4 separate regions of the Homo sapiens genome follow, and all the other regions are linked to region 4. The links come from fine-mapping of genetic effects on gene expression. A gene starts in region 4. Each other region holds a variant in brackets. All regions are shown on one strand. Distances are between the middles of the regions. Region 1 overlaps KSR1 (kinase suppressor of ras 1). Region 2 overlaps KSR1 (kinase suppressor of ras 1). Region 3 overlaps KSR1 (kinase suppressor of ras 1). Region 4 holds the start of KSR1 (kinase suppressor of ras 1).

Region 1 (7,704 bases), 76 kb before region 4:
AGCAAAGATTCCTTCCCATCTTCCTTCGCTGCAATCTTAATCTTAACATCAAAGCTGTGCCTTTGGCAGCTGATAGGAAAACCAGGACGGGTGACTGGGGAAGAGTGCAGAAGGAAAGCGTCCAGATGAAGGATCACGATTGTTGATCTGTTAATGTGTCTGCAAGCTTCCCGTGGAACAAGGAGAGCAACCGGCTGTGAAATGAAGCTCTATGCATTAGGGCAGATCAGCATCCACACCCTTTTAACAATTCACTTGTACCAGAGGCCCAAGGAACACCTCTGGCACCAAACCACCATGCTGAGTTTCAAATGAGACCAGAATTACTCCTAGTGACATGACTGTGCATTCTTTCTGTGGCGCACACCAATGTGATGATTGTGTATCTTATGGATACTTGGTCGCAGCACCTCACACTCAGTCACAGCACTACAGAGTTTACGGAGCGCTCTGGCAAGACAGCACCTCATCTGATCCTCACTGCAAACCAAGGCTCAGGGGTAAAGGCACATGGCCAAGGCTACACACCATCCTATGTTGTGGCGCCAGCTTCACAACCACTGCCCACCCCAACTCCCACCCAGGAAAGCATGATTTTAAATTCATAGATTAAAACCAAGCACCCCTGAAACACTGAGTCCCACCCAGGGTCACTCCCAGCTGTGACCCCAGGGACTTCTCAGATGCCTCTCAGGGAAGAAAGCCCTGACAAGGACATCCACACGCTTTTCCTAAGCGATCTGAGAAGGTCACTGATTAGCCACAGCCATCTCCACTAAATAATCTTCAAAGCTCTTTTCCTGAGGGACCATTTTGTCTGGTCAGAGGAAGGAGATATGGGATGTAGGGGACATAAAAATCAGACCTGAAACCCAGGAATAATATTGCAGCAGGGTTTAGGTGACATCAGCTCTGGGAGGGAGAAAGAAGGCAAGACCACCTTCTCTAACAAGCAATGGCTAAAGACAACGCAGTTATCCCCCTAGGCCCTGTGCACCTCAGGCAACACAGCTGTAACTGGACTCACATTACTAGCACTATCATTAGCGGGGGATGAGAAAGGGCTCAGGCAACAGGATGCCGCTGCTGTATAATCCCAGGAATGCCAGCCAGGGGCAGTATAGTGATGGATAGTCAGGTGCTGGGGCCTAGAGGCCAACAGACCCGGGTTCAAATCCCAGCTCGGCCACTGACTAGCTGCTTTAACTCAGATTACTTAACCACCCTCTGCCTCAGTTTCCTTATCTGCAAAATGGGGGAAGAGGGGGATGTCTATTGCTGAAGACATCAGGCCTGCTATAATAGATTAACACTCATTGTCAGCCATCTCTATCATGAAAATTCCAGTCTCTTGTACTCTTTGAAAGCAGTTAGTCTGACTTGTTTATTGCTTTAAGATTCTTAAACACATTCCTGGATGACTCCATCTACATGGCATGTCCCAAGCTACCCTGGTGTATTCCTTGAAAATGGGCAAACGTAGACAAGGCCAGGCGTGGCTGGAACACACTCACACTGAAAGGATGGCTTTCCTGGCCCTTACTTTATTCTCAGGTCAAGAGCTGGGCACACCCGAGCCAAACTGTGCAACACGAACCTCTGAGCACAGTCTGTGCAGAAGAGGGAGGCAAACCAGGATGGGTAACAAGATGCACACAGCCTGAAGAAGCAAGCCGAGGAGAGGCCTGGCCCCCAGGCTGCAAGGGGAGCTACTCTCCAGACCTGGATAGTGGTGACATGGCTGAAAAAGACACACACACACGTGCGCACACGCACCTGTCACCTTGGACAAGCTCTAGCTGAACAGGGTGGGGATGCATCTCAAAATAAAGAGAGGCGGTATGCTGCCAAGCTCTCAAGAAATCAACTGACCACCCTTATTGAAGAAATTAGACAATGACAGCTAACTCCAACAAGGGTGACTATTATGCGCTAGACACTGCTTTAAGTGCTTTATGCGTACAGACAGCCCTTAGGATCTGTGGGTTCTGCATCCATAGATTCAACGGCAGATCAGAAATCTTTTTAAAAAAATGAATGGTTGCGGCTGGGTGCGGGGGCTCACACCTGTAATCCCAACACTTTGGGAGGCCGAGGCGGGCAGACCACAAGGTCAAGAGATCGAGACCATTCTGGCCAACATGGTGAAACCCTGTCTCTACTAAAAATACAACAATTAGCTGGGCATGGTGGTGTGCATCTGTAGTCCCAGCTACTCGGGAGGCTGAGGCAGGAGAATTGCATGAACCCGGGAGGCAGAGGTTGCAGTGAGCCAAGATTATGCCACTGCACTCCAGCCTGGTGACAGAGTGATACTCCATCTTAAAAAAAAAAAAAAGAATGGTTGCATCTGCATCTGTACTAAGGGGGCTTGAGAATCTGTGGATTTTGGTATCCTCAGGGGTTCCTGGGACCACTCCCCCATGGATACCAAGGGACAACTGAATTAACTCACTTAATCCTTGCAACAAACCTGTGAGAGACGCCCTATCACAACTATCCCCATTGTACAGAGGCGTAAACTGAGGATGAGGAACAGTCCCATGTCATGCGGCTAGTAAGTGGCAGAGCAAGAAACTGAACCCAGGAAGTTCAGCTGCTCAGCCCATGCTCTTAACCATGGGCTACATTACTTCCTTAAATGACTGAGACTTTTGGGGTGCCTACTGTCCATCAGGCCAATGCTGGGCATCTTGGTACAAATGTTCTCATTTATAAAAAAGGACTCAGAGGGTCAGGAAGCCAACCCAACGTCACCCAGCTGGTATGTGTCAGAGCCAACTTAAACTCATAAGAGGCTGATGCCCCACGCTGCCCCTCCAGGCTTGAGGCGCTGGGTCTGACCTTCCACAGTTTGAAGGCTGACCTTTCCCACTGTGCTCCACCAGCAGTGATGCAGATGGAGACATCACTGACCCAGAGCACACGAATACTGGTGAGGAGCCCCAGGGATGCTCTGCCACCTGATCAGAAGGAGGCCAGAACCTTCCAGAAAGCCTGTTGGAAAAGCAGCGCCTGGGAGAGAGTCCACCAGCTCCAACCTCTTTCCTAGCACAGTCCTCTCCTCCACAGCTGCCTGTAAGCCACATCCTACCCCGTCCCACCCGCTGACAAAGAACCAGAGCGAGGGCCTCCTGCTAGTTCTCCAGTTGCAAGGGCTCTCTGTGTTTAGCTTTCTGATGTAACAGCTCGAAGCGGAGATGCACGCACTCACTGTTGCATAAGACCCGATTTCGCTCACACAAACCTCAGGGCAAGTCAGTCTCAAGTGCTGCGGGCTGGAGCACAGGGTGGCCTCACAGAGCAGCCCGTACCTGAAAGTGCTCTGCCGCGCAGGACAACACATTCCCAAGGAGGCCAGTTCTCCCACGGCCTGTTCCCAGGTGACCCAGCTACCATAACCCTCCAGGTGGAGGATAGCTCACCCGCACTGAGAAAAACCGGGCAAACCCCACAGGGCTCTGCATCTCCTGCCCTCTGACCTTTGCAATTGGCCCCATCTAAGGACCACGTCAACCAGTGAGGATTATTAGCAGGACCAGACCCATCTTCAGATGTCTGAAATGCCTTTAAATTACAAAATCCTTGGATGTTCTAAGACAAGAAGGGCCTAAGGTCATCTCACAGAAATAGATGAAAAACTGATGAGGAAACTGAGGCCCAGAGAGGGACAACGACTTAGTCAAA[C/G]TCACACAAAGTAGAAGGCAGTGCCAGGACGGTCTCCTGGTTCTGTCCAGCACTCTTTCCCCCATACTGGATGGCAGAAGTCCTGGGTTCAACCTGCTGTGAGCGAGTGGTCTAGCTGGTAACGCTGGTTCCCTATTTTTATTTAACAAACAGGGACTGTTTTGAGAAGTGTATAAAATGCTAACTCATTTCATCTGGGGAGGTGGGTGTTATTACTATCCCCAAGTGGAGATGAAAGAGAGATAAAGTAACTGTCCAGGGTGGGAGGTGAACCTAGGCAATGTTACTCCACCATCCAAACCTGAGCCTTGAGTGCCACAGTGGCCTTTGTCACTGCAGCTCCTCAGGGCGCTGCTGGCTATATGCTGAAGTGCTCTCTGGAGCTCAACAGCATGCCCCAAGCAGCTGCTCAGAGGAGCAGGGCTGAAGCCACCTCCAGCACAGCACACATCTCAGCAGCCCCACAGGAGGGGTTCTCCCCCAAGCACTCGCCCACAGAACACAGGGGCCAGATCTTCCATGACGGATCCGAGTGTGGGACCAGGCAGAAAATGGACTCAGGTATTCACTACACCCCCTCCAGAGACCTGCAACATGTGACCAGGGCCACCCCCTCAGCTTACTGTCAGGGGAAAAGGTTTGCCAGGCAGCCCCTTCAAAGGCGTGGCCTCCCCGTCACCTGCACCTTCTGTAACCCTGGGCCTGTGAGGCAGAAGGGGGCCGCCCTGCAGTGCCAAGGCCATGACCCAGCAGGCAGGACTCTGCACCTTTGTGCACAGCCTCCTCGAGGTTCAACATCTTGAGCTTTCTTCCTGAAAAAGGAAGCTGTTTCTCAACATATTGCTACACATGGAGACTGAGAAACACAAACCGAGAGGCGAATAGGGCACTGGCCCCAAGGGAGGAGAATGAAGCGGGGAAGGGCTGGTATGGGCCAGTCTGCCTGAGGTAACCAGCCAAAGGGACAAGGAAACGCCCAGCACAAACTTGTCCATCCCGACATTGTTTACAAGAGGGACACAGTGCAAACAACCCAAAGCCCCAACAATGGAAGCACAGCTAAGGAGGTGATGGTAAAACCACTTACTAAACTATGACAGAGCCACTGAGCAGGTTTACAAAAACATAGGAAGTTTTTTGTGTTATTTTACTAAGCGACAGGCAGGACAAAAAAATCTACATGATGGATGGCAAGAACTACGTAAGCAAAACCTCGCACACAAAGTCTTTGCCTGGAAAACACAACTGAAAGAAAACACAGCAGAAATGTCATCTGTGAATGGGCTGATCTGAGTGGGAAGGCTATAGGTAATTATTTTCTTCCTTCTACTTTTCTGTGTTTTCCAAATGTTCTCTAATTACTGCGTACTGATTTTATAAGGCTATGAATGGGAATAATACATTTTAAAATGTCACAAGAGGAAAAGGGAGGGTGCTGGTGCTTCTCTTCTAGCAAAGGGAGAAAGGTCCAGGAGCCCACGGTAGACGTACTATTTGGAGCCGATCCCTGCTCAGGCCGCCATGCCCAGCCTCACCACTAAGGTCGGCTTTGCTGGTTACTCCATCTGCCCTGCTGGGTCTTTTTTTTTTCTTTTGAGACAGGGTCTCACTCTGTTGCTTAGGCTGGAGTGCGGTGGTGTAATCACGGCTCAGTGTAGCCTCGACCTCCCAGGCTCAAACGATCCTCCCACCGCAGCCTCCTGAGTACCCGGGACCACTGCCACACACAACTACACCCAACTAATTTTTGTATTTTTTGTACAGACAGGGTTTCACCATGTTGCCCAGGCTGGTCTCAAACTCCTGGGCTCCAGCGATCCACCCACATCAGCCACCCAAAGTGCTGGGACTGCGCCCAGCCCCTGCTGGGTCTTTAGATGGAGCAAAACCTCACTGATTCCAAAGGCAAAGATGCGGAAAGGAAGAGAGCAATTTCATAAGGTGGCATTAAACTCATTTTGCTGACGGGTGTGGGATGGGTTGGTTGGTTTGTTAAGAACAGTGTGTGTCCATCTATCCATCCATTCAAGAGTATCGAGTACCCACTAGTTACCCAGTATGGTGCCAAGGCCCTGCAAACAACACAGAAATGAATGACCCATCTCCTACCCTAAAGACCTCAGATTCAAGTGGGGGCCAAAGATATCAAGTTGCAATGCAAAAGTGTCTTTGACAAGGGTTTTCAGATACACACAGGCTGTGAGAATTCAGATATGAAAATTAAAGCTTCCAGCTTCAGAGAAAAGACGGGTGTCGGGAAAGAGTTCATGGAAAAGATGAGCTTTGAATTGGGTCTTGAAGAATGACTGGGGTTGCACAAACAAGTCAGTTAAACAGGCCAAGGAAATATACATGTTTATCTCAAAGGAAAGTTACCTCTGCCGGCAACCATAACAAACCTCCCACCTTAATAATAAGCAAGGAAATACAAAATGGAAACATATGGGCAGATGTTTGGCAACATTGGCAGAGGGACTCCCCAGTGTGGCTGTGGCAGGAGCATGGCAGGAGCGTGGAGCGGCATCGCCCCCCTGGAGGGCAGCAGAGAAACAGGATGATGCAACAGAAGCCTCACCAGGTGGCCCTCACCCCTTGAGCCAGACTCCACTTCTAGGAATTTATCCTAAAGAAACAATTAAGTGTAAGCATAAGCCTATTCACGGAAGTGTAACTTAAAATAGCCAAACATGGGGAAGTAGGTAACTACATTCTGGTGTGTCAATCACAGAACACTATGAGGCAACTTTTTTTTTTTAAGTCCCTTTTAACAGTGTACTTAATCATATGAGGCAATGCCCATAATCTTCTAGAAAGTTAACAACTCAAGGTAAGAAAACTACATTTGCAGTATGATCTTCACATATCTTTTTTATTTTAATTTAAGGCATTAATTTTCTTTTTTCAACTTTGAGGTCAATTTCTATTTTTATAGCAAAATTAACATCTCAAAATGTAAACACTGGAAAGTTTTATTATTTACTTTTTTGTATTTTTAAAGAACGGGTGTCATTTTTATAATCATAAAATGTTATCCAAACTGAAAGAATAATAAATGGAGTTTTTTTATCCAATAGGTTTTTGGGGAACAGGTGGTGTAAGTTTTGTTTTGGGATTTTTGTGGTTTTTTTTTCCAGTAGAGACAGGGTCTCTCTTGTCACCCAGGGTGAAGTGCAGTGGCATGACCGTAGCTCACTGCAACCTCACACTCCCAGGCTCAAGCAATCCTCCCACCTCAGCCTCCTGAGTAGCTGGGGTTACAGGTGAACACCACTATACCCAGCTAACTTTTTTTATTTTAATTTTTGTAGAGGCAGAGTCTCACCATCTTGCCCAGGCTGGTCTCAAGCTCCTGGGCTCAAGAGATCCTCCTTTCTCAGCCTCCCAAAGCACTGGGATTACAGACGTGAGCCACTATGCCTGGCCCAGAAATGGAGTTTCAATAGGAAGAGAAGAGGACATCCTCAGCTTAAAAAAACAGCAGGAGCCAGAAGTGAAGAAGTACAGGTCTCTCCTGGGAAGGAGAAAGAACTGAACATCATGATTAGACAGAGCTGGGCTCACATACTGGATCCACTCTTTTCTAGCGGTGTGACCTTTAACAAATTACTGATCCATTCCTGAGCTTCAGTTTCTTCCAAAGACCAAATGTGTTAAAGACTAAACGTGTTAACTTGGCCAGGCACAGTGGTTCACACCCGTAATCCCAGCACTTTGGGAGGTTGAGGTGGGCAGATCACCTGAGGTCAGGAGTTTGAGACCAGCCTGGCCAACATGGTGACACCCTCTCTCTACTAAAAATACAAAAATTAGCCAGGCATGGTGGCACGCACCTGTAATCCCAGCTACTCAGGAGGCTAAGGAACAAGAATTGCTTGAACCCCAGTAGGCAGAGGTCGCAGTGAGCCGTGATGGCACCACTGCACTCCAGCCTCGGCAACAGAGTGAGACTTCATCTCAAAAATAATAAAAAACAAAATAAATGCATTAACTTACACAGAATACCTACTCGATACACTA
Region 2 (7,704 bases), 67 kb before region 4:
CAAAATCCAGCAGACAGAGCGAGAGTGTGAGATGGCAGAGGAGGAACACAGGATAAAAATGAAGTTCTCAATAAAGAGAAGATGTATTGGGAAAAAAAACTACAAACTTTTACCAAGGAATGGCCTGCTTCCTCATTTAACCGGCCCTTTCCCAATTCACCCTAAGACTTTGGGGGTGGCTCTCTTGTAATTAATTGTGTTGGCAAAGAATGTCTGGAACATGGACTTGCGGTCAGTAACCTGTAACAGAGCGACAACTAGGAAAATTTGAGTGGTAGTAGTCACTAACTTAAGAATTCCTTCAGGGAAACAGCTGCACCCTTTGTACCCCTTAAGTGGCAAAGAAGCTGTTACAGTCTTCTGAAAATTATCACCATGAGTGCTATAATTCTGAATGTAATGTCTCTTAATTAGAATTCATACAAGAACCATGAGAGAGAGAGAGAGAGAGAGAGAAAGAAAGAAAGAAAGAAAGAAAGAGAAAGAAAGAGAGAGAGAGAGAGAGAAAGAAAAGAAAAGAAAAGAAAAGAAAAGAAAAGAAAAGAAAAGAAAAGAAAAGTTAGTTGCAGTTACCGAACAGATCTGGATGCCATAGGGGCAAGGCCCCACCTTCCACGCAAACTGTTCCAAATTGGAAAGGGCTCTTTTCATTCTCCCTATAGCACACCTGTATTTCTCCAGTTTGATGTTTAGGGAGAAGATTTACACAAATGTCTGAAGGGCAAATCTTGCTAGACTACCCGGGGTGTCCTTGGCCCCAACTACCTCATCCTCTTTCAGATGAAGAAGGCACCAGGAACACCAAGGTCAGCTGCCTGAAGATTAAGCAGCTGCAACCTGGAAAAGCTTAAGGTTTAGAGAGAACCTCTGGAAACCTTTGGAACCTTTGGGAAAAAATGCAAACTCAGTGACCAAACTGTAAGGGGTGGAGAGCTGTATCCTCTCCTAAATGCCAGGCTTTGGGAAACTCAAGATAAGCCTTCAGAGGAGACCCAGAAGGCTCAGCTCATTCCAGTACTACATATAATCAGCATTTAATCCTTACCATGGTTCTTAGCCATGTGTCAGGCCCTGTTCCAAGCACATTACATGCGGTAACTCATTTATTCTCTCCAACGAAACTGATGCACAGAGGCAACTTGCCCAAAGCCAGAGCCAGAACCAACCCATGCAGTGCCTTTGTGCAAGGTGAAAGAGTGCATCCCATCCTCTGCACAGACACAGCACAGACCCACAAAAGGCATATTCCTGGCAATAGGGGCAGTCTGGATTTAAGGAACCCTTCACCCCCTTGTGCAGTGCACAACCTGCTTGACTGTACACAGCCCTGTCCAAGTTCACACAGTAAGTAAGAGGCGGAGCTGGAATCTGAACCCAGGCCACCTGGCTCCCAGGTCTGCTACCAAGTAACAAGCAGGCACAGTTTCATATTAAATAAGTGGCCTGCAAATTAATGCAACTCAAAATATACAGAAGGACTGATGCGGGTGACTGAGAGCACAATTCTGTGTGTCTAGAATGATCACATTTTCAGTAATGATGAGACAATGCTCTGACATTTACAACTTCATGGGCATAAGATTTTTTCTTTCTTACCATTTCTAATGGGAATATTTCTAAAATGTGCCCCACCGTTTTCCACCTTACAGCATAATGTAATATAACCCTGCTTGAACTCCACACCACCACTGCCACTCCAGGAACCCAGAGCCCCCTCCCTGCCTTTTCCTGCCGCTCTGCCTGCAGCCTTCTAATCCTGGGTAATCTCTTTTTCTCTGCTCCTATAATTGCTACTGGAGAAAACTCAATGTGCAGGTGGGTTGGGGACATCCAAAGTTTTAGGTTTTGACCTACTTCCTCTGGCTTAGCAGCTCTTTGATTTGATTCTATCTAATTCCTTGCTCTTCCCCAATTCCTGGGGCAGCATCTTACCAGTTTCATGCTCTACAAGCCCCTTTGCAGAGATACTGGAGGCCACCGGCCTGTACTTGCTGGATTTGCCTATCCTCACCTCCCATCAATACCTCCCTCCTTGGGAAGGGGATGGGGAGGGGAGATCTAGCTGTCCTTCAGCCTCCAAACCTGCATTCAAATCTTTCTGGCCTTAATAAATACTTTCTCTTCAGCTCCCCCTTCTCTCTCTCATTCCCTTCAAGTTCAAAGATCTTGACACATTTCCTCAGCTGTTCAATATTACTCCTCCATTGATCTTAGTCTCTCTACTCCACCAAAACTGCTCTTGCAGAAGCCCCCAGAGTCCATGTTCTCACTCCCACCCTCATCCTGCTTGACCTCACTGGGGCATCTGGCCAAGTGGTCTCTCCTCCCAGACATGCCCACCCCTAGCTTCCCAGTTCTCCTACCTTTCTGACAACTCAGCAGCCTCCTTCCCAGGACTCCCACAATCACCTACACGCTTATGCCTCCCAATTTAGAAAACTCTGAACCCCACTCCACTCATAAGCTCCAGCCCCAATCTAACCCCCAAATGGATGGCCAGCCTGCATGGGCCAGAGGTACCCAAACTCACTATCTCATCTTTCATCATCTAGTGGTGGCCTCCCACTTTCCACTCTCCTTTCTTCCTAACAGAATGCTGAGGTTTTAGCTGGCCCGTTTCCATCCTTCCTTGCAGGCAGGTGTAGCTGTGTGACTAATACCTGGCCAATGACACATAAATGGAAGTGCCACATGGTAATTTCAAAAGGAATATATACATGACACATCCTTCTCCAGTTCATTCATCCTGCTCCCTGGAAAGCTGATGTGAAAGCTGGACCTCCAGCAGCCATCTAGGAACATAAGGATAAGGAATGGCAGAAGGGTGAGCTGGAAGGTTCCTGAGTTCCTAATGACTTTGTGGACCCACCACACCGACATTGGGTTACCTACATCCAGACTTCTTTTATGTGTGAGAAAAATTAACTTGCTTGAGTTACTGTTATTTGAACTCTATTTTATCTAATATCCCCTCCAAACTGGTCATGTCTTGCAAGACAAGGAACTTGGTCAATAACATCAACATTCACTATCTGGAAGCCTCCAGCTGTTTATTTGCCAACTTTCC[C/T]CATTAGACTGCGAGCAACTTGATGGCAGCAACATGTCTCTCATTTTCTAAATAATTCAAACACACAAAAATGGTATCTTTCCTTTTTTTTTTTTTTTAACCTTACAGAAATGGTATCATTACTACAGATATTCTGCAACCTTTCTACCAACGTTTTTCTTAAATGTAGTCGGGCTGATTCATGTAAGTCAGATGGAACTGGTGAAAAGTACTACACTGTGTAAACCGTCATTTATTGATATATTTCCTGGCTAATAGGCTTTTAGTTTCCTTCTAGTTTTTCATCATCACCAAAAATGTTACAATGTACATCTATTTCTCCTTGAGCACTTGCATGCTAGTTTTTCCAGTACAGACAATAGAAGTAAAATTTTTGGCTATAGGGTATGTGTATCCCTAACTTCACCACATCTAGTCAAGTTCTCTTGAGAGTAGTTGTACCAATTTACACTCCCCAGGGCCCTGTGTGAGAGAGGAGGCCCCTCCCCATGCTGTATTTCTAAACTGCCAATTTCTACCTAACATGATGGTAGCAGGATCCTTTTTTTCTTTCTTAGTACCCTGAACTAGCTACAGCAGAAACACAGGAATCCCCTGAGCTACTCTCCCCAAAATGTTGTCTGGCTGCTGCCTGAGGACAGACCACCCTGCAAAAAGCAACCTAGCTGGGCAGCCAGCATTCAGAGTGGTGCACCCATTGCTTTCTATCTATGGTGTCTCCTCTTGCAAGACAGAGACTTTCCCTCATTGCAAACTTGCTGGGGGGTTGGTGGATTAGTCCTTTGCATTCACCACCCCTCAAATTATTTCATATCCAGCCTACTCACTCAAGCCCTCTCCAATACCAACCAGAAAAGGACAATGTGAAGGTGTTTGTCCCACCACAAAGCCCTCCCACTTTTCCCTGGAGCTCTCAGGCAGGCTGCTGAAAAGAACATCTCATCTCTGCTGGAAAGAAACACCTCATCTCTGGTGGTGGCTCATGAGCATCTCCTGATAAAGGAAAATCCCAGGCAGAGAGAGGGGCCAAGTTGTTTATTTCCAAACACAAGCCAGATTCCAGCTGTGACATGTATACTGGATCTGCTCACTGCAAAGGCGAGCTGGGCGGGAGGGCCACGGGGAGCGGGGGCCAAAGCTGTGTGGAGGATTGCGTGGTTGTTTAGTTTCAAGTAAGCCAGTATTCCTAGGATCAAGTTCATAGCCCCTTCTCAGTCCTGTTTTTCCTGACTCTGCCTGTCTATGGATTTTTCATGTCAACTTGCCCCAAGTGCAAAGGGTAGTTGCCTTGACCCACTTAACCCAGGGGCTCAGAGAGACACTCCACCGGGCTCAAGGCTGGGGTCTGGTATCCACCTTTCCACTCCACAACATTTATTGAAAGCTTGCTCTGGCCAGGTACCAGTGTATAAGAATGGCTGTAACAAAAACCCAGCCATTATCCAGAACTTGACCTCTGAGAACTCATGGCCTAGAAAATAAATACTTGTGATGTCATGTGAAAAGATGCAATGGTAAATATGTGCAAGAGAAAGGAAAGAACAGAGAAAGTAAACCTAACTAAGCCTGGTCTCCCTAGCAGCATGGGTGATAAGCAGACATTTTTATCATCAACATCATAATTCCAACTGCCTGCCTTTCCCATAGCCATGAGAGTGTGGATTAACAGGGCAACAGGTGGTGCTTTGGGAGCTCAGACGTCAGGAGACCTGGTTCTAACCCACCTGCCTCCATCAGAGTAGCCTTTGCAGGCCAGGCGTGGTGGCTCACACCTGCAATCCCCACGCTTTGAGAGCCTAAGGCAGGTGGATCACTTGAGCCTAGGGAGTTTGAGACCAGCCTGGGCAACACAGTGAGACCCTATCTCTACAAAAAAATTCAAAAACTAGCCAGGCGTGGTGGCTCATGTCTGTGATCCTAGCTACTCAAGAGGCTGAGGCAAGAGGCTTGCCTGAGCCCGGGAAGTCAGGGCTCCAGTGAGCTACTGCACTCCAACGTGGGCAATGGAGCTAGACCCTGTGATCCTAGCTACTCAAGAGGCTGAGGCAAGAGGCTTGCCTGAGCCCAGGAAGTCGGGGCTCCAGTGAGCTACTGCACTCCAACCTGGGCAATGGAGCTAGACCCTGTTTCAAAAAAAAAAAAAAAAAAAGGAATGGCCTTTGTCAACTCACTGTCCTCATGGGTAAACTGAAGGGTGGAACAAGCAACTCCTGAGCAGTCCTTTCAGCTTGGGTATCCTAACCAGGGGCTTTCCACCCTCCCTGTGTATCAGAATCACTTGGAGCGGGTATACATATAGAGATGCCTGGGCCAGTTCCCACCCCAGAGGTACTAAGTCAGCTGGCCCAGGGCTGTGCTCCTGATATGGATGTGTTTTAAAAGCACCCATGATTCAAACATGAGGACAGGGTTCAGAACCACGGTGCTGAACAAACTTCCTGCTGGTGACAGCCACAAGTGCTTGAGGACCGGGCCCCATTCCACAGACTGCCCAAGGCAGGAAGCGAACCCAAGGCCAAACAGCCCATAGTGCCTGCTGTCTGCTCACAGGGATACAATGATTTCAGGAAGATTCCAGTTAGGCCAACTGGCAAACAGGGAATCACACGTCTCCCGCATCCTCCAGCTACCTGCTTTCAGCCCCTTTTGGCCACTGGGACAAATGGGTAAGGGGGAAGGCAGCACCCCTCCAATCCACTGGCAGGGGGCCGCCCCACCCTCGGGAAAAGGAGGCCAGTGAGAGTTGGAGGCAGCGGGGCCTGGGAAACCTGGGCGGGCACAGCCTGGCCTCCCTGCCTGTGAGCCAGCCCCTGAGAGGCCTCGTCCGGACAAAGGGGCAGAAGAACAAAGCTCCACTGTGCCCGTTCTGCACGGAAAAGCCAGCAGAGACAAGGAGACTTCAGGGCTGGTGGCACGATTAGCATTTTATTTATTTATTTAATTTTCGTTTTATCTAACAAATGCCTTGGGGACACAACACTTATTATGCGCACCAAGCAGAGTTTCTGAGCCCTTTCTAAAGATTAAGCTTTAGAAGATTAAGCTTTCCAGAGTTAAAGTCCAGGGAGGGGAAAAAATTAATTCTCCCCCTCCACAGGCACATAAATTTACCTTTGCATTTGCTACTGTCTGGCCTATAACATACAGAAACCACTTGGATCTAGGAATGTGTCCCAAGGTGTGACTTAAATCCCTTCGGTGCCCTTTATAGAAGGCCATCTTCTGCAGGAATGGAAATTTTCTCATGGCAAGGTGGAAAGAATTTGGAAGTTAAACTCCATTTGCTACATGAACTTGGACAAGTTTCAGAAACTCTCCGAAACTCATTTTGGTGTCTGTCAAATGGGAACAGTGTAGCCTATTTCAGAGGTGTTATGGAGTGAAATGAAATAATTCATTCGGTATAAAGGGTGCAACAAAGGGCCTGACATCAGCTACAGGTTTATTCCCTTCTCCCATCTGCAAAGCACCACCTCTGCCATTTACAGAGACTCTGCTGCACTGAGTACCCATGGTCTAACAGCAGCCCTGCCAGGTTCAGTATTACTATCCCCACTCCCGGCTGGGGAAACAGTTTTACTATCCCCACTCCCAGCTGGGCTGGATGAAGAGCTCCTCCCAAAGCTCACAGCTCTCAGGTGGTGGGGCCCACATTCAAAGCCTGTGCCATGGACCAGGGACTTTCCTTTGGTCTTAGACTCTAGGTCCCTCACCACAACCCGTCCCAATTTAGAGCCTAAATAATCATACAGCTCAGTAGAGCTCCTTGCTTTTTGTTTGGTTTTAACAGTGTCAGAAATCCCCCACAAATCTGGCAGCTCTAAACACTCACATTGCAGGCCCCACAAGCAAGCACCCAAGGCTGGGCTGTGCAGAGAACGGGGACAGCTGGGGTCCCGGGACTGACAGAGTGGCACTGACTGACCATCACCACTCAGGCTGCCCATTCTTGGCATCAAACGCACCATGGCCAGGTCAGAGAAGAAACTATGCCGACATGATAGAATCACTAAATGCCGGGGGTTGAAGGGGACTCCTTTCCTCAGCTGTAACACGGGTGTGGGGAGGAGTATTGCTGAACTAAACAATCCTGGAGGGATTTCCTGTCCTCCCACCCCTGGGAGCCCTAAGGGAGCAGTTGATTCAACCTCCATGTGGCCCCACACTTGAGCCACAGGGCAGGCCCTGACCTGCAACTGGAGAGTGGGTGCCCAAGACAATTTTAACAAAACAAAACCTCATTTCTGAGGCCTCAGAATTCCTTTCTGCAGGGAACCACACCCAGGGCTTCCAGGCGCTGACCACCACAAGCCATTATTTAGGGCAGCCTCTGTTCAGGTATTACTCCTCCCACTGTCACCATTACCCACCAGCGGCCTTACAAGGCCCAGAAGTGAGTTCTGCAGCCCAGGGCATGGTGAGAGGAACCAGGGCTTCAGGATCAAGCAAGCCTGCAGCAAGCGCAGCCCTGCCACTCTTCTAGGCAATGTGACCCTAGACACATCACCCAACACCTGAGCGGTCACTTCCTCACAGCTACTGTGCTATGCAGGGCTAATGATGCACACATCCTACTCCAGGAACCAGCCAGTGCAGGCCACAACAAATGCCAGTTCCCTGGAGGGCTCTTTCCCTGT
Region 3 (7,704 bases), 130 kb before region 4:
CTGGGACGTAGGACTCTGAGGCCTGGCTTGAGGCCAGACTGGCTGATTGACTCTGGGAACCCCTGCAATCTCTGTGGGGACATTTCCTCAATGGAAAGGACTAGAAGGGCATTCCCCAGGCCTCCCCAGGGGACATCTAAACTCAGTGCTGTGCACTTTAATACATTAGCTTACGTAAGCCTCGCCAGCAACCAAGCATGGTAATTAGAGTTCAGCCCATTTCACAGTCAAGAAAACTGAGCCTCAGGAGGCTCAGTAGGTCACATGGCTCACAGTGGGAGAGCCTGGCCCAGAGCCAGGCAAGAAAAGGGGTCAGTCAGCTGGAGAGACCAGGCCTGGTGGCTCATGCCTGTAATCCCAGAACTTTGAGAGGCTGACACGAGTGGATCACCTAGGTCAGGAATTCAAGACCAGCCTGGCCAAGGTGATGAAACCTTGTGTCTATTAAAAATACAAAAATTAGCCAGGTGTGGTGGCACATGCCTGTAATCCCAGCTACTCGGGAGGCTGAGGCAGGAGAATCGCTTGAATCCGGGAGGTGGAGGTTGCAGTGAGCCGAGATTGCGCCACTGCACTCCAGCCTGGGCAGCAGAGCAAGACTCCTTCTCAGAAAAAGAAAAAATAACTATCAGTTGGCAAGGGTGTGGCTGGACAGGAGGGCAGAGATAACAGCTGTGCAGAGCAGAGGTAGCCCCTGAAAGGAGAGTCAGGCAGGGACACACCCTGAGCCTCCCCAGGGGGCAGCCACTGCCCCTGAGAACACATGGAGCTGGAGGAAGCAGAGCACTCAGGGGTCACCAGAACAGCGAGGTGGCCTGAGCGTCACGTCAGTGCTGGTTCTGGTAGCTCTGCAGGGACTGGACTCAGAATCCCAGGGTCTGAGGCTCAGTCACTGGCTGGAGTTTGAGGCTAGTTGTGTCATCTGCCTGAAGCTGTGTCCCTGCCACCTTCTAGCATGGGAATGAGACCACAGCTTTCCTAATGCTCTTCTTGGGAGAAGACAGAAACACAGGGACTGGGTTGAGCCCACTGTGAGGCCTCCTCTGACTGACCCATGTTCGTGTGGCCATCATCACTGCATTCTACAGCCCCTTCTGGGTGGGACCCAGGCCCCAGCAGGACAGCCCGAGTGGGAGCAGCAGGGTCGGTGACACCTGGATCTCTCCTCCTTGGGCAGCATACTCAAACCCATCGGAGCTGTCCAGGCTCCATCCCATAAAGGACCCTAACAGCATGCACTGGGAGAGGGGATCAGGCCCGTTCCAAAGATGACTCCAAGGCCCAAGATACACCAGGGCCCAAGGAACCCCCTAGAAAAAGGGTGCCCTTATTGCTTCTCGGCCTTTTGGCTAAGATCAAGCGTAGGAAAGGGGTGCCCATGCCGAGGAGAGAAACCAGGTGCCCCAATCCTCAGGGGTACAAGAAGGTAAGAGGCACCCAAGGAAAACACTCCCTTTCTTTCTGTGCTGCCAAGGGTATACTGACAAGGGCAATCTTTGTAACAAAAAAGACAATGATCTAACGCCCATCAAGAAGGGACAAGATAAACTATACAACGAAATAATATGAACAAGTCAAACAAATGGGGTTTAATTAATTATAGACATACACAAAACTGCTAGCCTGGTTGGCTCCTGAAAGGGGAACCCTGTGACTGAATAAAAATGGTGGGGTAGAGTTTTCACCACGTACCCTGAGAAGCCACAGAGCTGCTGCGCTTTGGACCATGTGACTGTCTCACTTGTTCAAAATATATAGATAGAAAAATTTGTAAGTCAAAAACTAAACAAAAGAGTAAAACATTCCAAGATGTACTGACATGATGTTCTCAGAGATACCAAGGGAAGTTGAAAAAACAAGTCATGGGACAGAGTAGATGGTATGGTATCTGACAGTCACTAGTGGTTTCTGCCAAATATTCCAGTTCTCCCCTCCTGGGCGTGTGGGCAAAGAGCACTGTTTCATTCTCCTGTTCAGGTTGGGCCAGGAATGGTGGGTGGAACTTCCAAGAAGGAGTACGCAGCTGCCAGGGCATGACATCTGGAACTCACTTCTCCCTCTGCCACCGTGGCCAGCAATGTTCAGACAGTCTGGGCCCGGAAGGAGGCTGACCCATGATGGACAAGATGGACAAGGCGGCATGAGCAAGAAACAAATCTTTGTTCCTTTAAGACCTGGTGATTTGGGCATATCTGTTATTTCTGTGTAACCTGGCCTACCCTGACCCATACGTGGCATCACGTCATGTGCATGTACGTGTACATACAAAACCAAATCTAGAAGGATTCAGCCCACACCACTAAAGTAGTCTGAGGAATGGACTGAAAGATGGGGGCACCTTTTACTTTTGACTTTACACACGTCTATAGGGGTTGATTTTATTGGTCCTTCCATATATCTTTATGATTAGAAAACCACAGAGGGCACTTTTGGTAGCTGCCCAGAAGGAGCACTCACCTCATCGAGGAGACGTCATCAATGCGGTTCCCCAGCTGAGACTCATGGGACTTGCTCCGGGTGAGTGTGGGGAAGCTGGGCAGCAGCTGGAAGACCTTGCGGCTGGGTGGGGGGGGCGTCCGTGGTGGCTTCAGCTTGGTGTGCCGTCGCAGCTGGGGTGTGGTGGGCGGGGTGATGAAGCTGTGCAGGGCACGGGGGGTCAGCCGGCCGCTGGCGTGCAGGGGAATACAGGTGTCTGAGAGGCCCTCACTGAAGCTGGGGGTGGGGGAGTCTGAGGCGGGCAGAGCTGACACGGAGATGGAGCGTGGGCCCTGGGCGCTGTTGCCTGCTCTGCCCAGCTGGGAGCTCCCTGGGGGCCAGGGCAGGCTGGCTGCTGAGAGGGTGTCCGTGGAAGGCCCTGAGCCACTTTCCCGCCGCGCATCCAATGAACTCCAACTGGAGTCCTCCTTGTGCTCCCCTCCTGTGGACCAAGACGTGGAGTCACAGATGGTCAGGGCTGGAAGGAATTCACAGGGGAGATGGCTAGGGGCCAGAGATGTTCAACACCTGGTGTGAGGCTGCACTGTTTCTTAAGGGAAGGCTTCAACTACCAACCTTTACCTGGTTTATAAAGGCCGCTCACTCATGCGCACACATTATCTAGCCAACCATGAGGCCCTCGGCGCAGATACTACCACAGGTTGAGCATCCCTAATCTGAAAATCCAAAATCCAAAACGCTCCAAAACTTGGGAATTTCTGAGCACCGACATGACACTCACAGGAAATGCTCATGGGAGCACTCTGGATTTGGGGATGGGGAATGCTGAACAGGTAGGCATACTGCAAATGCTCCAAAATCTAAAAAAACCCAGACTCTAAAACACTTCTTGTTCTAAGCATTTCAAATAGGGGATACTCAACCTGGATCTCTGTTTTACAGAGGAGGAAGCACAGCCCAGAGAGGAACTGGCTCGTGCAGGGCTCTTATGGGCAGGTCTTGGGGGAGCAATCCAGGAAACCCACCCCAAAAGTGGGGTGACCTCAGAAACCGAAGGGGTGACCAATCTTTAAGAGTTAGGAAAGGGAAGCTGGGTGTGTGAAGGAAGGAAAAACTCCACTTTAAGAAAATTCAAACATTGGGACGAGGGGCTATTCTGAGCATCCAACAGCAAAGTGCTCTGGGGCTTGTGAAAAAAGATCCAGGAAGAAAGGGATCAACAGCCACTTCCTTCTACACCAGCCTTCGAGTGACTGTGGGCTGCCCCTACCATGATCCTGTGCCTGAGGCCCCCGAGGCTTGTGTGGCTCTGTAGTGTTTGAGCTACAGCCATTCAAGCACATGCTGGATGCTGGGTGGAAAGGCCTAAAAAGACCCATCCTTGTGCTTGTAGAGTCGAATGGGCATGACAGGCACATAACACACTATGTATGCTCTGTGCCAGGACAGGGGGCTCTGCAGAAGAGCAGACCTTAAATCAGCTGTGGG[G/C]GTGGAGAGAGGGAGTGTGCCAGGGAAGGTTTCCCAGAGGAGGTGGCACCTGGGAGCCACCTATGAAGCTAGCTCCACATGAGCCAGCTATGGAAGAAGGTGGAGAAGGAGCACCAGGCAGAGGGAACAGCATAATGGGAAGGTAAGGGCATACGGCACCTTCTGGTCACTACGAAGAGTTCTGTGTGCTGTCAGAGGTAAGGACAAGCTGGGGAGAGGCAAGGGATGAAGCTGGGGGGGTCAGCCTAGTGGGGCCAGATCAGGAAGGGCCTTGAATGTCTTGCTAAGAACTTTAAATCTCATATTGAATTGTAATCCCAATGTTGGAGGTGGGGGCTGGTGGGAGGTGACTGGATCATGGGCGTGGTTTCTCATGACTGTTTTGGCACCATCCTCTTGGTGCTGTTCTCGAGAGAGTGAGTTTAAAAGTGTGTGGCACCTCCCTGCCCCCTCTCGCTCTTGCTTTTGCTCCTGCTCCTACACTGTGGGACGCCTCACTCCCCCTTGCCTTCCGCTATGCCTGGAGCCTTCCCGATGCCTCTCCAGAACCAGAAGCTGCTATGCTTCCTGGAGAGCCTGCAGAACCATAAGCCAAGTAAACCTCTTTTTTATATAAATTATCCAGTCCTGCAGATCACCAGGTCAGGAGTTCGAGACCAACCTGGCCAACATGGCAAAACCCTGTGTCTACTAAAAATACAAAAATTAACCAGGTGTGGTGGTGCATACTGGTAGTCCCAGCTACTTGGGAGGCTGAGGCACAAGAATCGCTTGAACCCGGGAGGCAGAGGTTGCAGTGAGCCAAGATCGCGCCACTGCACTCCAGGCCGTCTCATAAATAAATAAATAACCAATCCAGTTTCAGGTATTTCTTTACAGCCTGTGAGAAGGGACTGACGCACCTGTATTGCACAAGCCCTGCCTCCCTCCTCCCTCCCGCAATATCTGTTCTTCTCCCCAGTGTACAGTGGAGGTCACTGTGACTCAGGGAGGCCACAGACACTGCCCAAGGCCAGAGAGCTAAGAAAGTGGTGGGATGGGAATTGAAAACATCGATCTCAGCACCGTGCTCCCCACCTTGCCCCCGACAATGCTACTGATTCTGAATAACCTAGAGCGGAACAGCTGTGGGAGGTAACAAGCTCCATCAGAGGTGGTCAAGCCACTTCTCAAGAATAGGGGGGATGAATTAGCCTTCCCAATTCATAAGTTTCTTTGCACATCCCATCCCCTCTTCAAACACCCTTCCTCCCACCTGACTGCAGTGACTTTCTATTCAGGAACCGACTAGACAGGAGTTGCTCAGTCCCTGTGCTCCCATACCGCTTGCTCCTTACGAGCTACAGCCATGACTGACACTGTAGCTCATAGACTGGCCTACTGGAGGCACCAAACAGGTTTCTTATTGAGCAGATGAAAGGATGAATTTCATGAATCTATGAGTAAGCCTGCTACCAAAGGGAGCAAGCTTGCCACCAAAGGAAACAAGCCCCAAAGTTGCAAGTTGCCTATTTAATCACCACTGCTCTAGGCCCACTTGAGGATGGCCAGTGGGTCTTGATGTGTGCACCGACACCAGCTGATTGGCAGTGGCTGCTTGAGAATGACACTACAGTCACACAGAAACATCTGTGGGTTAGTGATATCTGCCTCGGGTGAAGGATTGGGAGGATCAGCAGGAATGTTCATCTCCTATTCACCAGCACAGACAACCATCCTTCACTCACTTTTTTTTTTTTTTTTTTTTTTTTTTTTTTTTTGGTGAGACAGCATCTGGCTCTGTTACCAAGGCTGGAGTGCAGTGGTATGATCTTGGCTCACTGCAACCCCTATCTCCCAGGTTCAAGCCATGCTCCCACCTCAGCTTCCTGAGTAGCTGGGATTACAGGCACACACAACCACTCTTGGCTAATTTTTGTATTTTTTGTAGAAACAGGGTTTTGCCATGTTGCCCAGGGGGGGCTTGAACTCCTGAACTCAAGCAATCAGCCTGCCTCAGCCTCCCAAATGCTGGGATTACAGGCCTGGGCCACCATGCCCAGCTGTTCACTCACCTTTCTTTAGACCAGAGATTGCAAAGGAAATGACTTCAACACTTTCTATCACCTCATAGGCCTCACACTGAAAAGAACATCTAATACATGCCAGGCTCTGATCTAAGGACTTTACGTTAACTCATTTCCTTTTCACAACAACCCTGAGAGAGGTGTCGTTATCACTGCCATTTTACAGATGAGGAAACTGAGGCAGAGTGAGGTGAAGTAACTCACCAAGGTCCCACAGGTTCTAAGTGGCCGAGCAGAGTGCTGGGCCCAGGCAGGGCCCAGGTGGTTTCATTCCATAGCCCACCTGTACTCTGACTAGACTGCTCTCACCAAGCCCCATGGGGATGCAATGAAGATGCTGTGATGCACAATCTAATGGGATCACTGGTACCCAGCGGATCCCAGCAGGTGCCCGTGAAGTGCAGCCAGCACTGGGCAGACGAAAGGCCGGTGTCCTGGACTGTGATGGGGCTAGGACTCTGCTGGGGATGCAGAGGCACCACAAGCTGAGACTAAATGAGAGAGAAGAAACCCAGAAAATGCTTCTTCTTCAGGGGCCTCCTCTAAGGCCTGCTGGAAAAAGCACCCTCTGAACAAGAAACCTGAGTTCAAAGCCCAGCTCTGCTCCATGCCAGGTGTGGGGCCCCAGATGACTCATCCAACGCCTCCAGTGGTCAGAGAGGCCTCAGCTACAAAGCGAGCTCAACACTACCTCTTACAACGATGTGGCCACAATATGTGTGTCACACGCCTGGCACACAGTAGGTGCATAAATTAGTGATCTCCCTCTCTTGGCATCTAGGACAGGTAGACAGCAGCCTGCATGACACAAATAGGTCACTACCACTTAAAAGCTGACTCTTCCACAATTCTTTAAAATCCAGGCATAAGGAGGAAGCAAAGAAGGGCTGACAAATTACCCCAAAGATCTCAGCTTGGGTGGCAAGCATGGGGACAAACCAATCGCCATCAGGGCCCAAGGTTCAAATTCTGGCTCAGCCACCAACTGCTGTGTGCCCTTACCCAAGCCCTTTCCCTCTCTGAGCTCAGTCTCCTGTAATATGTGAGAACAAGAACACCAGCCACACTTCTGTTGTGTTTATTTTCAGCATCTGCCGGGAGACCTGGCAGGTCAAGATTTTCTGAATTGAGTGCAACTTTCTACACTGTGCCGTGTTCAGAGGACTTGATACAATGAGGGCAGAGAGGAAATTAAGCCCGATCCTCTCTGGGAAGAAAAAACCAGGCAGAATATAAACCTTGGTGCCTTCCTTAAGCCTCAGGCAGACGGAGATAAGACAGGGGCCTCAGATAATTAAAAACCAGGCCTGATTCCATTCATGAGGCTTATTTTAATGCCTTATCTATGTGGTAGTGGGACCATTAAGTCAGGCATTTGAAGCTGTTTCCGACGCAAGATTTAGAAAGCCTGTGAATAATTCCCAAGGACCTCGTGGCAAGGCCAGGATTACACACTTTGCCTGGGACAGCCACGTACACACTCCCAGCTAAAGAGCCATAGAGTTTCCCTAATCACCCTTGGCTCAGGCCCACATCAGCATGTGCCTTCTGAGCACAGAACCCAGCCAGCAATGGGGACAGGAGAAGACGGGGAGAGGGCTGGGGGCTGGAATGTGGGAAGCTGGCAGAGGGTACACAGAGCCCTCAACAGAGAGGAAACCATGCCAGGCCAGCCCAGCCCAGCAGACAGGCCTGGGATTTCTAACCATGGCTG
Region 4 (7,704 bases):
TCACCCACCTGTATGAAATGAGAGGCAGCTGCAGAAGTACCTTTCCCTAAAATCCAGATTTACTGAACCCATAAAGTAGGGGGTTAAGTTTCCCTAGCAAGGGTCCAGTAGGGGTTAAGTTTCCCTAGTGGTGGCCTGTGCCATAAATGCTACTGGACCCTCACTAGGGGCAGCTGCCAGGCAGACTCTTTTCGTAGTATCAGCACGGACTGACAGACAAAATGCTGCAGGTGTGAGCAGTCTCGTTCCTATTTTACAGACAGGAGAGCTTGAGATTCAGAAGTCATGGGACTTGCCTAAGGTCACACAGACAGAACCCAGGCCCAGTATGAAAGCCATGGGGCTTCCTATTCACCACGCTGCTCCTATGGCAAAGATTCTTCTAATAAACTTAACCCCTATGTTATGGGTTCAGTAAATCTGGATTTTAGAACCATTCTTAAAGAGGGTTATTCTTAAACCAGGGTAGTATAAAAACAATCACAAACATTTGATTTCACCCAACCAAGTCTCCTTCTCTAACCTAGAGAATTTCGAGCTTCCAGAGCCCTCAGAGATCCACTCCAGCCTCCTTGTTTTGCAGGTGAGGAGGCTGAGGCCTCCGGGATGAAGTGACTCATCTAAACTAGCTGGTGGCAGCCCCATGGAACTCACTCCAGGGGTCTAAATTCCCATCCCCCAAAACAACCCAGGCCCTGCCTTTTCAGGAAGTGGAGTGAACCCGAATCCACATCACGGTGGGAAGAACAGGGAGCTGCAGATCCCCTGTGGGCCTTTGGATGGGTTCTCTGCTGCCAGGGATGATCGTCTAAACAAACACTCAGGAGGGAAGCCACTGAATAAACCAGCTCCAACACTTAAATAGCTGGATGCTCTGGGGTGTCATGAACGCCACACTGCCATCAAAATGAGGGACTCCGGAAGTTAGGGTAGGACAAAAGGCCATTCCAGAGAATGCACAGCAAGTGGTTCTCCTATATACACACTCTGGAAGCCAGGAGCACTTCAGAGCAACGTGGGGACAATCCCACAGAGGCCAACACAGAGAGCATTCTCCAAGCCCAGCAACACCGAAGTCCAACCACGCACACTCTGCCAGACAGCGACCCCTCCTCCCGGAACTGAGCCTCACAGGCCCCCTATTGTTGTCAGCTTAAAAACTGAACTTTGCTGAGCAAACACACTCAGCTGTGTTCAAAAAATCAGTTTCTCTCAATACTTGGAAAACTGCAGCATGCATGCAGAAAGGCCAGTTGTAGGGGGTTTTGTTTGTTTTTTAAGCAAAGCCTTGGTCAGTACAGCTTTAGCCAACTGTAATAAAAAATAATAATACCCAGCACTGACTGTATTCTTCCAATGTCCTGTGGTTTTATAGCTTTTAAGAAAATAAAACTGAGGGAGAGTCACCCCCGAGCATTTGGAATCAAACAAGGATTCGGCTTTGTGGCATGCCTGGAGGAAGGATTGGTCTTGTAATAATTACCGCGATCACAGAGGGCCTTATGACAGCTGGCAGAGGCAATTAGCAATAAGGGGCGGGGGGAGGGTTTGGGGGAGGAGAAATTGAGGATCTAATAAAACAAAACATCCCCAGACCTGCAGGAGGCCAGATGTGGCAGGGCAAGATGGTGAGAGGTTCCTTCTTCAAGACGGGGCAGCTATTAACTGGTCTGACGTTTCACCGCCCCGTCCCTGGCCAAAATCACATTCAGAATCCACTAGTTGCCCTCATTTGTGTATGGACAGGGTGCCCCAACAACCCTCGGGCTGGTTTTTCCAAATCCTTCAGATACTTCCCCAGCTATAATTTGAGAGAGGAAGGCCCGCATATCTTATTTCTTCTTTACACTCCAGACTGTCTCCATCAGAACCCTTTAAACAGTTTCATCTTCCCACCAAAGGCTTGCTTCCCAGCATAATCCTTCCTAAGCCTAAATCCAATCTTTGGGGGGAAGCAGGGGGAGTCAGCGGGTAATTATTAATACATTTTAAGCAGCGAGCCTCCGTGGCAACGTGAAAGGAAAGCACCAAACGCCTGAATAACAAAAATGCAGTTTCAGCAACACTTTTTGAAAAGGCGGCAGACAAGACCTGAGAGGAGAGGAAAGGAAGGGACAGGACGGCGTCTGGGGCGTGAGGGGAACAGGGGACGGCAGGCCTGCGATCACGCTTCAGGGGAACCTCCTCCGTCACCCTGGCCCACGGGTGCTCGGCTCAGTCACACGGGGAAAAGTCCAGCTTGTGACTCGGTGGGACAACGAGTCCTGCGGCCCCGCAAACTGGAAATGGGGTGGGGGCGGAGAAGGGGGGAAAGGGGATGTCCGCGCGCAGCCCACCCCGCACGGGCCCCTCGAGCCTCCATCCCAGTTCCCACGACGCACCCGCCCCACAAATCCTGCCCAAGATGAGGGCTGGTCCCGGGTCCTCCGGCTGCCGCATCAGCGAGTGCAGGAGGGAGGGGAAGCCTCCAAGGGGGGCGACGCGGGCTCAAGGATGCAACTCGGCCAGGAGTACTGGGGCCCGGAGGGAGGTGTCCGGGCCCGCTCCTCGAGCCCAGCCTGGTCCCCGACCCACTTACCTCCAGGGTCCGTATCTCCTGCTGGGTGAGGTCGTTGGACACAGCGCACTTGGTGCGCAGCCCGCGCAGGCTGCCGATGGAGATGTCGATGAGCTTCTGGAGCTGCCCGCACTGCTGCAGCGCCCGGCTGGCCGCGGCCCCTGCGCCTCCCTCCGCGGCCGCCGCATCCCCCCCGCCACCGCCCTCCTTCTTCTCTCCCATCGCCGCCGCGCGCAGCGCTGCTCTATCCATGCCTCGGCATCGGGGCCGCGGCGGCCGAGGCTGGGAGCCCGGGGCGCGGGCGCCTCGGCAAGGAACCCCCGAGCCAGGAGAGCTGGACCAGGAGCGCCCCTCGGCGCTGCCCGAGCCGGGACGCCGGTAGAGCCGGCCGCTGAGTCTGCCGCTTCCACCCTCCCAGCCGCGGCAGCAAAGCGAAAGCCGCGGCGACCCGACGGCTGCGGCTCCCGGAGCCTTTAAGCGGCGGCGGGGGCTGGGTCAGGGCGGCCGGGCATGCTGGGACTTGTAGTCCACGCCGCGCACCTGCCGCCGGCCTCCGCCCTCGGGGCCCCGGACCGCGCCCGCGCCGCCCTCCCTGCCCTCCTCTCCCCTCCCCTCCCGGCGGCCGCGGCGAGGCAGGCGGTGAGGGCCGGCCCCAACCGGGAGCCCCGGGTGGAGCTGCTCCGCGCCAGCTCCTCCCCCAGGCGCCGAGAGTCGGGGGAGCAGCGTCTCCCCGTCCGCCTCCGTCCCCCACCCGGCCTAGGAGCTTCCCGCGACCCCCGGATGGGGCGGCGCCCCCTGGACGCCCGGCGGGTGTGCGTCCCGCAGTTCCTCAGCTGCAGCCCAGCCCTGGAAGATGGGGACCAGGGAGGTTCCAGGATTTGTATGTGGGTTTAGGGGCTGCCATCTAGTGGGAAGGGGCTTACAGCACTTCTGTAGCTGGCTCACAAAGCGCTCTACTCTGGACTGCCTGCGCCAAAACGATTGCTCAGGCTTGGAGAAAGACGAAGAGCTTTCTTCTGAACCACATTTACCTGCCAAAATAAGTGTCCCATTCCCCCGCCATTCCCAGCCCACCAAGCCAGCCCAGACACGGGGGACAGCACACTGAATTGTCGGTGGCTTCGGAGCAAGTGGCCAGGATTCAAATTCTGACTCCACCACGGTCTAGGGTGAGACTTTGGGCACGTTCGATTTCCAGTGAATGCCCGACTCTCCTCATCAAATAACTCTTTAATAGGGTTCCTATGAAGAATCAGTTAATACATGTACAGCACCTAGATTGATTACTGGCACATGTGGTCGCTGGATAAATGTTAGCAATTCTTACTATCTAACCTCAGATCTGAATGTGGCCCTGGACCCAGGTAGTGGCCATGGAGCAGTACAGTACTGCCAAGGACTGGTAGTCCTTTGTCCTCTGTGCATTTCTGTGCCTCCTAACCCAGCAATCAAGCCTTGCCCATCTGTTCACCCTCCTCTCCCATTAGTTCACCCCATGCGTTCTATTATCTGGCAAAACTGAAAAACCAAGTCTCTGATCAAAGCTCCCACACCTTCATGCTTTCGACATCTGTCAACCAGAAAAAATGTCTCCCCTCTCAATTTTCTCTTGTAAGCTGCTTGATTGCAGAAGCCACTAGCTATTGTACCCTCTTTATAGTGCCAGATACAGTGCATGGCACACAAGAAAGGCTCCAGCGTGCCTCAGGAGCTCTTTCAGCAGGTCCTATGGGATGTTTCTTTTACCTCTCAGGCCAGCCGAGGGTGTGTGTGTGTGTGTAGATAGACAGTTGTTTTTTTGGTTTTGTTTTTGTGTTTGAGGATGAGAATTGGACAGGAGGTGGGATCCAAACCTTGTAGACACTAAAACAATCAATAATGGATGGCAGTTTGTATTACACCTTCCTTTAATGTTTATATTACACCAGCCTTCGAAATAAATTAAGGGCTGGGCACCGTGGCTCATGCCTGTAATGCCAGCACTTTTGAGAGGCCAAGGGGGAAGGATCACTTAAAGCCAGGAGTTCGAGACCAGCCTGGGCAATGTGACAAGACCCTGTCTCTAAAAAAAATAATAAATTTTTAAAAATCAGGTCTAGGAAGCAAAACTATAACTTTAAAACTTGTTTTTGCAAATTAACCCCTCCTCGAGATTTTCCAAATGCAAGGAGGTTCCTCCCTAACCCCTGGCCTTTCCCATTGAGAGTCATTGATCCAGTCCTCACTCAACTTATAAAAAGACCGCCTGCACGATATTATGAATTTCTCAACCTGTTACCTTAACCCCATCCGACTCCTTGCAAAGTAGTAACTATTATGAAAGGGAAACTAGTTGTGGTTCTCAAACTTGAACATGCATCAGAATCACTTGGAGGGCTTGTTAATTCCCAGAACCATGGAGCTCACCTCTATAGTTTCTAATTTTGTAGATCAGAGGACAGGGCAGGAGAATCTGCATTTCTATCAGGTTCTCAGGTGGTACTGATGTGGTTAGTCTGAGCCCAGTCGCAAGTCTATACTTTGAGAAGCCTAGGCACAGAGGAAGGTCAGTGGGCAGAGAACTATCTCAAGGGACTATCCACAACCCAACCTGGCTGGTTCAGAGCCTCTGTCCAGCAGCCAGAGCTGCCAGGCTTGAACGACTCACTCATTCTAACACAATTCACAAAAGATTTTTTTTTTTTTGAAACAGGGTCTTGCTCTGTCACTCAGGCTGGAGTACAGTAGCATGATCATGGCTCAGTGCAGCCTCGACCTCCCAGACTCAGGCGATCCTCCCACCCCAGCTTCCCAAGTAGCTGGGACTATAGGAGTGTGCCACCATGCCCGGCTAACGTTAACTTTTTTTTTTTTTTCCTTTTTTTTAGAAATGGAGTCTCTCTACGTTGCCCAGGCTGCTGGTCTCAAACTCTCGGGCTCAAGCAATCCTTCCCCTTCAGCCTCCTGAAGTGCTGGGATTATAGGCGTGAACTACCATGCCTGGCTCACAAGAAATGTTCTGGTAAGTGCCTATTTATGCACTTACATCAAACTTGTTATTGCCACAGGGACCTGGTCATCACATTCTCCCTCTAGGGCCACTTTATGTGGGAAGCCACATCCTGAGAAGAGCCACTGCCAGCTTGTGGCATTCATGCCCACCCATGTCACCACAGGGGTGATGTCAGAGCCTGAGACTGGACAAATGCCAGCTCCCTGGTTACTCTCCCGCCAGGTTCCATGCAGCGAGTCTGTCCTCTGTGGATACAGTCTTCCCTCTGATTATCCAGAGCATTCAGCAGGCCACAGTTTTCCTTCCTCACAGATGGCCTCCAGCCTTCTTGCCTGGATTTGAGTCATCTGTCAGCCACAAGTTTACAGAACTGCCCCTCAGAGGTGGAGAAACTTTTTTGTTTTTGTTTTTTGTTTTTAAGAGACAGGGATTTGCTCTGTTGCCCAGGTTGGAGTGCAGTGGTGCGAGAAAGCTCACTGCAGCCTCAAAAGTCCTGGGCTCAAGCCATCCTCCTGCCTCAGCCTCCTGAGTAGCTGGGACTACAGGTGCCTGCCACCGCATCTGACTAATTTTTAAATTTTTTGTAGGGACAGGGTCTTGCTGTGTCATGTAGACTGGTCTCAAACTCCTGTTCTTGGCCTCACTCTCCCAAAAGTGCTAGGATTACAGGCATGAGCCATGGCACCTGGCCGAAATAAGGATTTTTAAATAATCCCTTCATTCATCCTTTTAACATTCAGTAAGCATTCATGAAGTGCCACTTACATGGCAGGCCCTGTTCTGGGCTCTGGAAAAGGGTAGTGAACAAAATGAAGATTCTTACCCTTAGGGAATTTATGCTGTGGTGAGAGGAAACAGACAAGCAGATAAATGCACAGTGTGTCAGTGGTAACAGGTGGTATGGCACTGCAGGGAAGGGGACAGGGAATATGGCCTTTACAACTTCGAATAGAGCTGTTTTAGAGAGTAGGGTAGTCAGCTCTGTCTCTGAATCGCTGTATGACCTTTGACGAGTCTTATATGACCTCGGGCAAATCTCCTAATCTGGTAGCACAGCTTCTTATTTGCAAGATGGTGATAATGTTTTATGAGGATGAACAGATTATATAACACAAAGTAATGGTCATAAAATAAGGGTTCGGCATATTTATTTATTTGATAAATATTTACTGTATGTCTACTGAAACTGTTCCAAATGCTTAACTCATTGAACTATGCATTACTTTCTTCCTCACCTTCCAGAATGAATCTCTTCTAGTTAGATGAATTGATCTATTATGTGTTGATTCAGGGTTTCAGCATCATCTCCAGGTTCTTGAGGCTTTTTCTGAGGCACCTCAGTAGAGAAAGTTTGCTTACTCTCTCCTTCCTCTCCTCTGTCTCGGGTCCCTTCATTGCTTTTCCGAGCTTGTCTGCATCCAAACACCAACAGCAGCGGTGGGAGCATTTTCATGCACAGGCCCAAGAAACATGAAGAGGACACTTAGCATGCGCCAGGCTCTGGGGTAGGCTCAAAGCGAAGGAAGCCGAGTCCTTATCCCTGTGGAACATACATGAAGGGAAGGACAGGAAATGAATGTCAACAAATATATTACCAAAATAAACTGAGAATCATAAGTGCTACGCAGAAGAAGAAGAAAGCAAATAGCCGAGAGTCTCTGGTGGCTAAGGTACTTCACTAGGTGAAGTGGACAGAGAATTATTATCTGACCATTGAACTAAGATGTAAATAAGGAAAAGCAAGCCATGTGGAATGTTCCAGGAAAGGAGCACTCCAGGCAGTGGGAACATCATGTGCAAAGGCCCTGAGGTAGGAGCAGCTTGGCATACTCCAGGAACAAAGTGAAGGCCAGAGAAGCCATAGCAAGATGAGGGAGAGGAGCAAGGGCTGGAGATGATGTGGGAGAGCTATGCAGGGGCCAGATAAAGTGGGACATGGGAAGGAAGTTTGGGTTTTTCTCCAAGCCTTTGTTACTCCTAATGCGGTCCAGGAGCAGCAGCAACTGTATGGCCTGGGAGCTTATTAGAAACGCAGTCTTGAGCCCAACCCCAGATAACTGAATCACAAACTGCATCTTAGCAAAATTCCCACATGACCCAAAAATAGATTAAATTTTTAGAAACACGGTACTCTAAGAAAGTCACGTTCTTTTCA

The links. PIP is the estimated chance that this variant, and not a neighbour inherited with it, causes the effect.
Region 1: its variant is fine-mapped to the expression of KSR1 in whole blood (TOPMed, PIP 0.99).
Region 2: its variant is fine-mapped to the expression of KSR1 in whole blood (TOPMed, PIP above 0.99).
Region 3: its variant is fine-mapped to the expression of KSR1 in whole blood (TOPMed, PIP above 0.99). The same link has a PIP of 0.9 or more in atrial appendage.

What each region holds. Positions count from the first base shown.
Region 1 is chr17:27,528,023-27,535,726 of GRCh38, reverse strand. All of the region lies in intron 1 of KSR1 (kinase suppressor of ras 1), which reads right to left. Among named protein-coding and RNA genes, the nearest start is that of KSR1, 75 kb to the right of the region's middle. RefSeq lists a silencer at 2,651-2,836. The variant C/G (reference allele first, on the strand shown) is at 3,688.
Region 2 is chr17:27,518,847-27,526,550 of GRCh38, reverse strand. The region is part of intron 1 of KSR1 (kinase suppressor of ras 1); the gene reads right to left. It also overlaps the pseudogene MSANTD3P1. Among named protein-coding and RNA genes, the nearest start is that of KSR1, 66 kb to the right of the region's middle. RefSeq lists enhancers at 6,403-7,039, 7,019-7,168. The variant C/T (reference allele first, on the strand shown) is at 3,068.
Region 3 is chr17:27,577,859-27,585,562 of GRCh38, reverse strand. KSR1 (kinase suppressor of ras 1) reads right to left here. Exons shown (of 21, transcript NM_001394583.1): 4 at 2,458-2,917. Among named protein-coding and RNA genes, the nearest start is that of LGALS9, 49 kb to the left of the region's middle. RefSeq lists an enhancer at 6,199-6,268. The variant G/C (reference allele first, on the strand shown) is at 3,925.
Region 4 is chr17:27,451,749-27,459,452 of GRCh38, reverse strand. KSR1 (kinase suppressor of ras 1) reads right to left here and starts at 3,005. Exons shown (of 21, transcript NM_001394583.1): 1 at 2,579-3,005. The coding sequence starts at 2,809. RefSeq lists silencers at 2,146-2,195, 2,716-3,475 and an enhancer at 2,839-3,340.